2 separate regions of the Homo sapiens genome follow, and region 2 is linked to region 1. Evidence: fine-mapped expression QTL. A gene starts in region 1. The other region holds a variant in brackets. All regions are shown on one strand. Distances are from middle to middle.

Region 1 (2,915 bases):
AGGGTTATTGTATTACATATTAAATAAGCAGACAAACTCTCTGTACAGTCCTTACATGGAGCCTGACACACAGTCAGTCTTACTAGATTATGGATCATCACCATTGTCATCATCATAATAATTTGTGCTGTCATAGTAATAATTTGTGCAACAACAATAATAATAATAATGCTGTGGGTATCAAATGATAAACAAGACATAGACCCTGCCCATTCAAAAAATCGTGGCAGCAAGAATCCAGATTTGGCCATAGAATGGTCAGAAGTTAGGCATTGAATTAGGCAGGAAACAAAAGAATTCCTCTGGTAACCAAGGTTGGGTTAACCTGGGCCCCCTGTCTCTACTCTTTCCCACACATGTTTTATAACCGTCACCCCCTTTTCCAAGAGGGAAAGAGGTATTCTGAATGAGCGCTGCTCTTCTTTCACATATGGCTACTGTTCCCAAGAGACTCAAGTGGGCTTTCTCTTTCTCTGCTGAAGTGAATAATATAGGGTGTGGCTCTCTGGATGGCACTTACCGGTTTGTGCTACAAACCAGCAAATACACACAGATAATCCCACAGATGATCTCACCAGACCTTGTCTCCCTTCCCTCATTCCCTCAAAATCATACCCACCTAATAATGTTTAGTGCACTGCAATTGAGTATTAGCTCCCGTATCTAGCTAATAAAATACGTAAACATCCAACAGCCGGGTCCTCACACCCACACACATACCCTCGCCTTTAGAAACATTTCCACGGATTGTCACACGAGCCCCTAAACTCTCTGTCACACTCTGCATGCATCTTCCCACAGACTTGCTCACACACTGGCTTTTTATTCGCAAGCCCATGGGGAATCTTTCACCTCTTAGACAGGAATTTCATTAACGAAGGGGAGGGGATGGTAAGAGGAAAGTACAGATGCAGGGGAAATAAATGAGAATCGTTTTTGAGGGAGACCTAAAACTGTATCATCCTAGCCCGAATCTCTCCCTTTTAACTGTTCTTTATGTGTACATTCTGTGCCCAAAAGAAAACAACCTTTCATTAATTGGGCAATTGTCCAGGCTCTTAGCTTGGCATCCAGCTCTCAGAGCTGTGAAATCAACCGCACCAGATCTACGCTTTGAAATGAGGCAACATCTAACTGGAAACTCGCTCAAAGTAAGGAAGTGGATGAGAAGACTCAGGGTCCCTTTTCTCTTCCCCGTCTTCTCTCAGCCACATCTCTCTTATCCTATCTTGGTGAAGAAGCTTGCTTGGCTAGGAGAGAGGTCAGGGACGAGAAGATAGTGACGAGAAAGTTCCATGAGACTCTCAGAAGTCCCAGCCTGAACATCAAACCTGAATAACCAGGAGAGACGTAACCTCGGCATACTTTCAGTGGTTTACCTCCTGCCCACGCTGCAGGTTTTTCAGGTCCTTGCTCGAGTGTGTGCTCATAGGCGTAAATAAACGTGCTATCAGCAGCCTGCGTCAGCCAGCCCAGCTATTTAAGCAGGCTGGCATCAGCAAACACAGCTTCCAAACCCAGGGCTTGCGCTTGCCTTTGCCTCTTCCACGTAAGTACCTTTCAAAGGTCTGCCTTTTATGCAGAGGAATGAGTTTGTGCAGGAACTAGACCAAAATGCTATCGTTACCGTATTTGCTCATCTGTTGGAAAACGGTAGAGGTGAAAGGGAGAATAGGAATGACAAGCTTACCCCCAAGCAGAAGCTAGGAAATGCTGCTGGGTGTAAGACATCAGTCCCTTACAAACAAAACTGCATGGGGTCGAGGGGAATTTGGAGGAAGGGGAGTTGGTGTTGGTCTTTTGGCCAAGCAGGTGAGATGTTTTTCTTACTCGCTTCTATTTTGGAAAGATAACTTTGAAACCAGCATTTGTCAGATGCCTATGATTTTCTCATTTAGAAGCAGATTATTGTTATTCTACATCCCAGACTTTTATCTAAAATCAGACATAATATCGTTTTAAAATATGTTTTGTGTTTGACAAGGGGAAGTGAGGGAGCTGTCTCTGGATGGAGAAGTGGCTTGATTTTGAATTTGCAGTTTATTGTTACTTCTGGTTCTCATAATACTTATTTATAACAACAAAAACAGTGATTTTTTTTTTTTGAGATGAAAAGGAATCCCAGGCTCTGGGGTTTAGAGAAAGTATAGGTTTGTGATATGTGAGTGGCATCCAAGTATTCAGGGTAAACTGTTAAGTAAAGTGGAATAAGAATCATTGAATAAAAAGGTACAATCTATCACATAGTTCAGATAAGAAGCTCTTAAAGAGAAAAGGAATGCAAACAGTTCCCATGAAGTGGCACTGCTACTGGACAGGGCCCTGTAGTGTGTTTAGTTAAGTAAGGTTAAGTATAACCAGGGCAGGCAGAGAACAAAACGAAGGTGCTGGGGAGGTGGGAAGGGAGGAGAAGGGAGGAGCAGATAGTAAAGGATTTATAATTAAACAACAGATTCATGAAAAGCAGATAGGAATAGAGCAGGGCATTAATTCCATAGTCTATCCCTTTGTATCAAGAATCTGGTGAAAGCCAAGGACCTTTCTCAGGTATTCATTCCTCGCTTCCTGAGCCTCCCCTTCCACCCCACACCCCAACCCACACCTTGACTCTCACTTTCTGGACTCCTAGAAGTCCACGGACCTAAATGAAGCTCATATGCTTATTATTATTTTTTTTTAACTGGGCTGAAGCTGCCGACTGAGGAACCTCTCCAGAAGTGGTGGCGAGTTAAAAACCTTCAACGTGGCAGGCACTTCTTAGCCACCAAACTGAAGCTTGGTTTTAAGTTCATGAAGGTCTTATGTCAATCAAGCAAATAATGATTAAGGGCTATATCTGAGAAAAGATAAGTTGAAGGCCAAGAGGAAGAGAAAAGAAAAAATGGATCTTGTTCTCAAAGAGCTTGAAATCTAAA
Region 2 (2,915 bases), 49 kb before region 1:
AATTTGCTCAGCTTCTCCCTCTTCCCTACTCTCCAAAGAGAATTCTGTCTTTGCTGGTTCTCTGTTTTTCTTATGATACAGAAATAGACATAGAGAAGGCAGACTTGAGAGTTAGGAGGACAAGGGGTAAAATTCCTGGTGGCTTGGGTCAATTCTAGGATCACCCTTTTGTGTATAAAAAGGGGCTACATGAACAGGATACTAAAGAATGAAGCCAGAAGACAAAGTCAATTTATATCATAAGGAGCTAAGAGAGAAGTATGGAAAAAAGAAAATAAAAAATAATCTGGGCTGGGTTTCAGGGAACATTCGTAGAGGAAAGCTACCAAATGAAGGGCTCTGAGAACCAAAATGTGCTGCTGTAGGTTATAGGTTAAATCTTTTTTAATGCCAATTAAATGTTGGAATTTTGTTTTGGTTGCTTAGCTATGTTTTTTTTTGTTTGTTTGTTTTTGTTTTTTTGAGACGGAGTCTCACTCTGTCGCCCAGGCTGGAGTGCAGTGGCGCGATCTCAGCTCACTGCAAGCTCCGCCTCCTGGGTTCACGCCATTCTCCTGCCTCAGCCTCCCGAGCAGATAGGACTACAGGCGCCTGCCACCACGCCCGGCTAATTTTTTGTACTTTTAATAGAGACGGGGTTTCACCGTGTTAGCCAGGATGGTCTCGATCTCTTGACCTCATGATCCGCCCACCTCGGCCTCCCAAAGTGCTGAGATTACAGGCTTGAGCCACCCTGCCTGGCCTATGTTTTTAATGTTTTATTTTAATGTCACAGTGTGCCAGACTGGACAGTATTGTATTCCAGCTTATATGTGGGTTATTGAATAGCATAATGGTTCACATCAGGAATTCTGGAACCAAACTCCCAGCTCCCAAATCCTACTTCCACCACTCAATAGCTGTGTTACCTTTGGCAAGATATAGTACTTGCTTCTCTGTGGCTCAGTTGCTTTGTCTGTAAAATAAGTTAATGAGAGCCTCTACTTCGGAAAATTGTTATGAGGATTAAATGAGTTACTATTTGTAAAGTTCATAGAAAGCTCATGCAAAGCCTGGCATGTAATTGGCGCTATAGAAGCATTAGCTATTATTAGTACAGGGACATCTAAGGTTATGAGATTTTTCTGTCTTGGTTCAACCAAGGTGGTGAAGACAACTGTCAGAAGAATTATCTTCAGCAGAGCAAATCTTAAGTTTAGGGAAAGTTTGGGCTGGGCACGGTGGTTCATGCCTGTAATCCCAGCACTTTGGGAGGCTGAGGTGGGCAGATCACTTGAGACCAGGAGTTCGAGACCAACCTGGCCAATATGGTAAAGCCCTGTCTTTACTAAAAATATAAAAATTAGCTGGGCGTGGTGGCACATGCCTGTAACCCCAGCTACTTGGGAGGAGGCTGAGGCATTAGCATCACTTGAACCCAGGAGGCGGAGGTTGCAGTGAGCCAAGATTGCTCCACTGTACTCCAGCCTGAGTGGCAGAGTGAGACTCTACCTCAAAAAAAAAAAAAGTGACATCTGGTCATCATTGTCATATTCTATGAGTTACAGATAAGTCACCAGGTGCAGCCCACATTCACAGTGAGCAAATCACACAGGGGTGAGTGCCTGGAGGCGGGGCTCATTGGGGACCA[C/T]TCAGGCTGGAGTGCAGTGGCATGATCTCACCTCACTGCAACCTCTGCTTCCCGAGTTCAAGCAATTCTCCTGCCTCTGAGTAGCTGGGACTACAGGCACACGCCGCCATGCCCTACTAGTTTTTTGTATTTTAGTAGAGATGGGTTTTCACTGTGTTGCCCACGCTGGTCTTGAACTCCTGAGCTCAGGCAATCCACCTGCCTGGGCCTCCCAAAGTGCTAGGATTATAGGTGTGAGCCACTGCGCCTGGTCTCACTTTCTTGATTTGGTTACAAAAGGTTGTGACTTCACTCTTGCTCGCAAACTCTCTTCGAGTCTCTTGCTAGATTTTTTTTTTTTTAACAGTGTCTCGCTCTGTTGCCCAGGCTGGAGTGCACTGGTGCCATCATGGCTCACTGCAGCCTTGTCCTTCTGGGCTCAAGTCGTCCTCCTACCTCAGCCTCCCAAGTAGCTGGGACCACATGCACTTGTGCCATCATGCCCAGCTAAAATTCTTAAATTTTGTAGAGATGAGGGCTTGCTGTGTTATCCAGGTTGTTCTTGAATTCCTTGGCTCAAGTGATCCTTCTATCTCAGTCCCGCAAAGGGCTGGCGTTACAGGTGTGAACTGCCATGCCTAGCCTCTTGCTAGCTTTGATGAGGCAAGCTGCCATGCTGGAGAAGCCCCTATGGTTAGGTACTGAGGCCAGGCTGTGGCCAACAGCTTAAAAGGAATTGAGGCCTTCGGTTCAGTAACCCCTGAGGAACCACTGAGTGAGTTGCAAATGGATCCTGACTCAGTTGAAAATTTGATGGCAGCCTTGTGAGACATCCTGAAACAGAGATCCCAGCTAAGGGATCCTGTCCAGATTCCTGACCCCAGAAACTGCAATAATAAATACGTGCTGTTTTAAACCATTATGTTTAGAAGTAATTTTTTACACAGCAATAGATAACTAATACAACCATGTACCAAAGTAAGAACTTGGGAGTTGGATTAAGGGCAGAGGTTCAGCTCCAGGACATCAGGGTGGAAGTAGGGGAGGGCTTGTGGGAGAGAGCCACTATAGAAAGAGCATCCCGGCCAGGCGTGGTGGCTCACGCCTGTAATCCCAGCACTTTGGGAGGCTGGGCAGGTGGATCACGAGGTCAGGAGTTTGAGACCAGCCAGACCAATATGGTGAAACACCGTCTCTACTAAAAATACAAAAACTAGCCGGGCGTGGTGGCACGCGCCTGTAATCTCAGCTACTCAGGAGGCTGAGGCAGGAGAATCGCTTGAACCTGGGAGGTGGAGGTTGCAGT

What was found.
Region 2: its variant is fine-mapped to the expression of HOPX in tibial artery (GTEx, PIP 0.92).

Annotation. Positions count from the first base shown.
Region 1 is chr4:56,679,889-56,682,803 of GRCh38, reverse strand. It overlaps HOPX (HOP homeobox), which reads left to right and starts at 1,508. Exons shown (of 4, transcript NM_032495.6): 1 at 1,508-1,549. RefSeq lists a silencer at 1,461-1,510.
Region 2 is chr4:56,728,960-56,731,874 of GRCh38, reverse strand. No RefSeq gene overlaps it. Among named protein-coding and RNA genes, the nearest start is that of CHAER1, 26 kb to the right of the region's middle. The variant C/T (reference allele first, on the strand shown) is at 1,631.